Homo sapiens: one gene and its partner. The protein of the gene in region 1 interacts with the protein of each later gene in a pairwise test. Each region holds a gene or a part of one and is shown on either strand. Other genes may lie near its edges.

What was found.
Region 2: the proteins of CYB561A3 (region 1) and GPR37L1 interact in binary tests that used the Homo sapiens proteins (3 or more experiments, as listed by UniProt).

The regions. Positions count from the first base shown.
Region 1 is NC_000011.10:61,355,383-61,358,882, forward strand, and holds part of CYB561A3 (lysosomal membrane ascorbate-dependent ferrireductase CYB561A3), read right to left. Parts: intron 2,447-3,500; 5' UTR 2,351-2,446; intron 1,990-2,350; exon of another isoform or gene 1,857-1,989; coding exon of another isoform or gene 1,821-1,856; exon of another isoform or gene 1,347-1,820; coding exon of another isoform or gene 1,332-1,346; coding exon 1,148-1,331; intron 1-1,147. UniProt on the Homo sapiens protein: Transmembrane reductase that uses ascorbate as an electron donor in the cytoplasm and transfers electrons across membranes to reduce iron cations Fe(3+) into Fe(2+) in the lumen of the late endosome and lysosome.
Region 2 is NC_000001.11:202,121,508-202,125,716, reverse strand, and holds the start of GPR37L1 (G-protein coupled receptor 37-like 1 precursor), read right to left. Parts: upstream 2,801-4,209; 5' UTR 2,754-2,800; coding exon 2,124-2,753; exon of another isoform or gene 1,984-2,123; intron 1,767-1,983; exon of another isoform or gene 1,659-1,766; intron 176-1,658; exon of another isoform or gene 1-175. UniProt on the Homo sapiens protein: G-protein coupled receptor. Has been shown to bind the neuroprotective and glioprotective factor prosaposin (PSAP), leading to endocytosis followed by an ERK phosphorylation cascade. However, other studies have shown that prosaposin does not increase activity.

The DNA.
Region 1 (3,500 bases):
CAAAGATGGATCCCAGGTTGGGCGCAGTGGCTCACACCTGTAATCCCAGCACTTTGGGAGGCAGAGGCGGGTGGATCACCTGAGGTCAGGAGTTCGAGGCCAGCCTGACCAACATGGTGAAACCCCATCTCTACTAAAAAATATAAAAATTAGCTGGGCATGATGGCGGGCACCTATAATCTCAGGTACTTGGGAGGCTGAGGCAGGAGAATGGCCTGAACCCAGGAGGCGGAGGTTGCAGTGAGCCAAGATCACGCCATTGCACTCCAGCCTGGGCAACAAGAGCAAAACTCCATCTCAAAAAAAGAAAAAAAAAAAAAAGATGGATCCCGGAAGAGCAAGCAAGTCCCTCATTCGGTGGCCTGACTAAACCATGAGAGGCTTCAATCTCCTGTTCTCTAGAGCTGGTTAAAAACTACAGCTCAGGTCGGGCATGATGGCTCAAGCCTGTAATCCCAGCACTTCAGGAGGCTGAGGTGGGCAGATCACAAGGTCAGGAGATCAAGACCATCCTGGCTAACACGGTGAAACGCTGTCTCTACTAAAAATACAAAAAAAAATTAGCCGGTCACGGTGGCAGGCGCCTGTAGTCCCAGCTACTCGGGAGGCTGAGGCAGGAGAATGGCGCAAACCTGGGAGGTGGAGCTTGCAGTGAGCCGATATCACGCCACTGCACTCCAGCCTGGGCGACACAGCAAGACTCCGTCTAGAGAAAAAAAAAAAAAAAAAAAACACTACAGCTCAAAGGCCAAATCCAGCTCGCTACCTATGTTTGCAAATAAAGCTTTATTGGAACACGTGATCCACACTTGTGTGTATGTGTTGTCTATGGCTGCTCTCACAATACAGTGGCAGAGCTGAGTAACTGCAACACAGATTCTGTCTTGCAAAACTGAAATATTTATCTGACCCTCTATAGAAAGTTTGCCAACTCCTGCCCTAGAGTATTTGTGAAGCCACCCTTCTGAGATGCCCCCCATCTTAACCCCTTCCTCCCCCAAATGACAGCTAGGCCCAGAGACAGCCCAACCCACCCTACCCCCATAGCCCCAAGCCCAACATTTACAAAGGCCAGCCTTGGAGAGGGAAAGTGCAGCTTTGTCCAGCCTGAGCCCTATCCCGCCTCCCTTCCTGACCTCTTACTCACCACCTCCATAGAATACCACCATGCCAGCAACCATAAGCACTGGGTGCCAGTTGAACATGTAGATGCTGCCATTCCAGGCAAAGCCACCACGCCAGTACTGCATCCAGTAGATAGTGAAGAGGATGCACATAGAGCCCAGGGACCCCAGCAGCAGGCAGGACAAGTAGAACCGTCCAGACACCATTCTGATCACGCACTCCTAGAAGAAGGAGAAGTCACAAATCTCCACTGGCTCAGATGCACCCAGTTCTCTGGCTAAAGGAGGTAACACTGATTTAGCTCTTGGCCTGTGGGATGGAATCTTTTTGCTTCAGTTCCCCTGCATCAGCCTGGGCACCACCCCCCGCCCGAGGCCTCAATGCCTGGGTGGGCCTGATCTTCAGTCACAATGACTGAGGCCCCACCCCAGCACCTGGCAGTGCCCAGACAGAGCAGCAAACTCAAGGCTATGGCTGGCCCTGGCGAAGGCCAGATGCCAAGGCCCAAGACCCAGAGTCCTGGGATTCCTCTCCCCTCACAGGACCAGAAGGTAAAGAATTACCACCCCATACCCCCCAGGAAAAAAGGGACAGGAATCAAAATCCAGGCTAAATTACGCAAACACCCAGGCCTTGGGTTCTAAGATAAGAAGGCAAAAATTACAGTCTGAAAAGAGCAAACACCCCACTATTACCCTAGACAGGAAGGAGTCAGAAAAGTTCTTCCCCATAGAGTAAGCTCTATGGGGCTAATCTTCACTGGAGAGGTAACCAGGCCTTCACTCCACTGCCCACACTCCACACCTTGAACCAGCTGATGCCCCTCAGCTGTCTCCAGCCCTGAGACTTCTGCTTTCTCTTCCTCTGGGGAAAGTCCAGAGAAAAAAAGAGGAAGCAACAACTCATGGTCCAGAAAGCAAGAGATTTATTTTGAGATTTCCACAAGTCCTTGATAAACCCAGAAACCAACTCTGGTTTCAGGCATGGCAAATGCTTAAAGCCCTGAGCAGTTGCTCTTAAACGCTAGGTGAGTGGGCAAAGCCACAGGACTGGCCCTGCTTTCAGCTAATATGTAGGCAGCACGGGCCCAGGCATCAAGGCAGTCACCCTGTCCCACGGACTCACACCAAGAAGGCAACAGTGTGGCTTCCTGCATTGAGGTCCCTCACTCGGAAGCAGCTAATAGCCAATAGCCCCCACGGAGGTAAAACATTTGACTGCTCACCTTTAGCCCTAATGATAGGCTCAGAGAACTGGCCTGGGCTCCAATTCCTGCGAAATGGGCACCTTGAGCAAATCACTTAACATTTGCAGGACTCACCTGCAAGAAAGGCGTGGCAGTAAGAATACTTGAACAGTAAGAATAACGAACACCAGCTACGAGCACCAGAGCCTTACACACAAGATCCCATTTACTCCTCTTAACCCTGGGAGGCATATTATTCCGTGAGGAAACTAAGGCTGAGAGAGATAAGTAATTAGCATGAGGACCCAGTGAGAGTGGGTGGGGAGTTCCAAATCCTGTGTGTTTAGCTTCAAGGCCCACGCTGCTTCCTTGACCACAGGTTGTCAGATCAAGTGAGAAAATGAATGTAGCACACTGTAGAAGTCAAGTATTAGAATTCTTCGCTGGGCGCGATGGCTTATGCCTGTAATCCTGCACTTTGGGAGGCTGAGGCAGGTGGATCACCTGAGGTCAGGAGTTCGAGACCAGACTGATCAACATGGTGAAACCCCGGTCTCTACTAAAAATACAAAATTAGCCAGGAGTGGTGGTGGGCGCCTGTAATCAATCCCAGCTACTCAGGAGGCTGAGGCAGGAGAATTGCTTGAACCAGGGAGGCAGAGGTTGCAATGAGCCAAGATTGTGCCATTGCACTCCACCCTGAGCAATGAGAGCGAAACTTCATCTCAAAAAAAAAAAAAAAAAAAGGCTGGGTGAGGTGGCTCACACCTGTAATCCTAGCACTTTGGGAGGCCGAGGCGGGCAGATCATAAGGTCAAGAGATCGAGACCATCCTGGCCAATATGGTGAACCCCCGCCCCCATCTCTACTAAAAATAAAAAATTAGCTGGGCATGGTGGCGCGCGCCTTTAGTCCCAGCTAGCTACTCGGTAGGCTGAGGCAGGAAAATCGCTTGAACCCGGGAGGTGGAGGTTGCAGTGAGCTGCGATCACGCCACTGCACTCCAGCCTGGCGACTGAGCGAGACTCCATCTAAAAATATATATATATACATAGAATTCTTAGTCATTGCTGTCATGCACTTCATCCTAACTACTAACATGCAGCTCATGTTCCTTGTGCCTGCCCAGGCCTCTCAGTGGCCCTCAGCCATGCCATGCCAGCTCTCCCCATGCTAGGGGTCCACCTAC
Region 2 (4,209 bases), on another chromosome or scaffold:
GGTGACAGAGTGAGACTCTGTCTCAAAAAAAGAAAGAGTGTTTTCTCCCTCCACCTGTCCCACCACCCAGCCTAGAAGGAAGACTGTCTACCAGCCTGTGGATCATCTCTATCCTCCAGGAGGTGTGGAGGGGCTGGCCCAGGAGGACATTACATATGTCAGGACCCACAGTCAGGTAGGGCCAGGTGTTCATTGACCTACCAGCCACATGCAAACAAGAGGTCGTATGTGTCTGCCCTTTTCCCCTTCTCCTCTATACCATTTTAATTCTAAGCACTGTATAGACATCACCCATTTAATCCCTTAAGAATTCACCCAGATAGCTATTATTATTATTATCCCCAATTTACCAATGAGGAAATTGAGATTTAGGTAGTTAAAGTAATCTACCAAATCACACAGCTAGTGATGGGAAAAGCCCAGTTTCTAATCTAGTCTGCTCAATTTCAGAGTCCTGTGTCTAAGCATGCACAGCTCACCTGGGTCGTGAGCACAAGATGATAACTAAGAATGCAAAGCCTCTCTCCAGTTGCAGGGTCTTTTTTTTTTTTTTTTTTTTTTTTGAGACAGAATTTCACTCTGTCACCCAGGCTGCGCAATCTTGGCTCACTGCAACCTCTGCCTGCCAAGTTCAAGCGATTCTCCTGCCTCAGCCTCCTGAGTACCTGGGACTGCAGGTGCGTGCCACCACACCCGGCTAATTTTTTATTTTTAGTAGAGATGGGGCTTCACCATGTTGGCCAGGCTGGTCTCGAACTCCTGACCTCAAGTGATCCACCTGCCTCGGCCTCCCAAAGTGCTGGGATTATAGGCATGAGCCACTGTGCCTGGCACAGGGTCTTCTTTCAGGGTGGAGTAACTTTGTACCACTGTTAGTCAGTCTCCCTGGGTTGGGAAGGACAGGAAAGGACTGTACCCACTGCTGAGACACAGGGAGTCTGTCCAACTATGACATCATCATTGTTACATGGTGAGGTGGGGACAGACCTTGGAATAGGACCTGTGTCCGTAATGCTGATCCTGAGCCCTTCTCCGGCCAGGCAAGTCCCCCTTGTCATGCAGCATCATTCACGAAGGAACAGCAGCTTCACAGGGAGACCACAGTCACTCCATTACACTCCATGCAGCCAAAATTTGAAAGACTGTTTGCTTATTTTGTCTTACAGAGAGAGAGAGGGTGGCCTTGCTGTGTCTTGCATAAATGCACACATCAGTATGTTTCTGCAGTGTTTTAAGTTGTCTCTCTATGCTCTACATATCCTTTGACACCCATGGACTTATCGTAGACGCTACCAGAAGTAAGGGCATAGTGGTATACTTTAGAACTGTGAAACAGGCCAGCTGGAAGGACCATCTGGTCTACCCGCCCTGGTTGGGAGATAAAGAAATTGGAGAGGTAATGCAACCTGCCCAGTGACGCCCAGTATGTCAGTGGCAGAGCTAAGACTAGAGCCCCCCATTAGTTCCAGTGCCCAGAACCAGGTATCCCTTTCAGAGAGGATCTAGGAAGTTGCTGATGGAAATGACAACGATAACAATGAGAATCCCAGCAGGGAGGGAAGAACGGAGCGGTCTTTTGCTTCTGGTGCTTGTATTCTCATGGAGTGGATGCTGACTTGATCCAGAGGGGTGTGAAGGAAATTGGGCTCTCCCTTCAGGCACTCCTTCAGGAGGCAGGAGACGGAGGAGCAGCGAAGGAAGCTGTGGGAGCAGGGCAGCGGCAGGGGGTACAGAGGAAAGAAGAGGAGTCACAACAAAGGACAGAGGTATCTTGGGTGGGACAGGGGAGAAGGGCTGAGGAAGGGAGAGGGCAGCTTAGGGTCTGGAGAAAGTGGCAAAGGCCTGCCTTGAGGTTGCTCCCGAAGCAGAAGATCAGGCTGGGGCTGGAACCCAGGGGCCCCACACACCCGCCTGTCCCCCTGGCCTGCCTACTTCTCTTGAGAGCAACCAGAAACCAATACCGTATTTGTCTCCTTCTCCAAGGTAAAGGAGGAGCAAGTCAGAGCTCCAAGACTCAGGTTTTGCACACCCACAAATTCCATTTCCAAAGACCTGATGGAGACTTTGAGTCCCTTCCCTGGATTGCAGCCTCCCAGCAGAGCTCAAACAGAACACACACTCACCTCCATGAAGGGCACGGCACGACAAGAAACGTCACCCAGTAGCCTCTGCTTGGTGATCTCGTTGAAGATGACAATAGGGAGGCAGAAAAAGAGGACCAGAAAATCCCAGAGGGCCAGGCTGGCAAGGATGGAGTTCCAGGCACTCTTCAGGTAGTAGCTGTGCCACACGATGCACATGACCGACAGGTTGCCCACAATGCCCACCGCAAACACCACCAGCGCCAGAAGCATGATGGCATAGGCACTGTAGGAGCTCTCGGTCACCGGATACAGGGGGTTCTGGATCTGTAGCCTCTGCCCTGGTGCTCCTGTCAGATTGCCCCTCAGTTCCTGCCCACTGTCTGGGGTGCCCCCATCCTTGCCGGGGTTAGGGCTGGTGGCCACCAAGGGCTTGGTTGGCTGCAGGCCAGCAGGGTGAATGGGCCGGGGGTACTCCGCCCACTCCTCAGGCACATACTGCTGCACGCCCTTGGCCTCCTCATCCTCGGTGCCCCTCTTGGATCGGCTCTGCTGCTCCTGGGTCTCGGCTCTGTGCCTGCCCAGGTGCAGGGGGGCACCCCCAGAGACCCTGCTTAGCCCCACAGCCAAAATCACAGCAAGAGAGACAGCCAGGGGCCACAGCCACCGCATGGCTGGATGAGCAGGAGACAGCCAGCCCAGGAAGAGCAGGTGAGTGCAGGGGGCCCAAGAGCTGGGCTCCAGAGAGGCAGCTGGCCGGCTGGATCCGCCTCCAGTCAGGCGTCTGGCATCACTCGCCTGCCCTCCCTCCCAGCCTCCGGCCACAGGCCGGGCAGGGCCCTCTGCTGGACACATAGCACTCTTTGCTGCCCTCACACATCTCGTCCTCCACGACGCCGCTTCTCAGGCCCTACAGCATGTCAGGCTGTGGGGCCCTAAGAGGGCATCTGCTTCAGGCCCCTGAAACTAGGGAGGAAATGTGGCCTGCCTAGGGTGACACAGGGAGGTGGGGCAGAATGGGAACTGGGGCGCAGGTCTCCTGATTCTAAGGCAGCTCCTCCATTCAAAACTCAGCAATAACCATCACTGTCACTTACTGAACACTTACTAGGTGCTAGCACTCAGCTGGTTTCTCAATTAACCCTTGATTAATCTCAGATCACAAATCTGAGGTTTGTAGAGGTCAGTCACTTGCCACATAGTTGATACAAGGCAGAGCAAGGCCCACAACCCAGATCTGACTCCAGAGATTTCTAATTTTTTTTTTTTTTTCGGTTGCCCAGGCTGGAGTGCAATGGCGCGGTCTTGGCTCACTGCAGCCTCCGCCTCCTGGGTTCAAGTGATTCTCCTGCCTCAGCCCCCTGAGTAACTGGGATTACAGTTACTGTAGTGCCCGCCACCATACCCGGCTAATTTTTGTATTTTTAGTAGAGACAGGGTTTCACCGTGTTGACCAGGCTGGTCTCAAACTCCTAACCTCAGGTGATCCGCCTGCCTCAGCCTCCCAAAGTGCTGGGAGCCACCGCACCCGGCCTAAAACACCATATTCTGAGCCAGACACAAGATGTGTGGACATTTGCAATAACACGTCTTTACTGACTACGTGTTGTGTTCCAGACACTCAGAATACAAAAATGTAAAGGATCTCTGCCACCAATGAGCTTTCAGTCCAGAGAAGGAAGTAAATGTGTAAGTTCAGCATGATAGATGCTATGAAAGGCAAAGGTCATGATGCTGAGGGAACCCAAGAAAATCTGGGGGGGATCTGGAAGGCCTCCCAAGCGAGGTGACATTTGAATGGATCCCGAGAAATGGCTGTGAGCTTGCCTGACAGACTACGGGAAGGGAGGGTGCTCTAGGCAGAAGACACAGCACACACAAAGGCTGGGTGATGTGGAAGTGGGTGATGTTCCCGCAAGAGAGCAAGTCTGTCGAGGGGACTAGAGTGCAAGGGAGGTGGGGAGAGAGCATGGGCACTTGGGACAAAGAGCTTGGAAATATCAGCAGAGGAGGAACTGGACTGTAAAGGACTTTGTATGCCAAGCCAAGGAGTTTAGATTTTATCCCATAAGCAATGGAGAATATCACAGGTTGTTAAGTAGGCAAACAATGACTCAACTAAGTTATT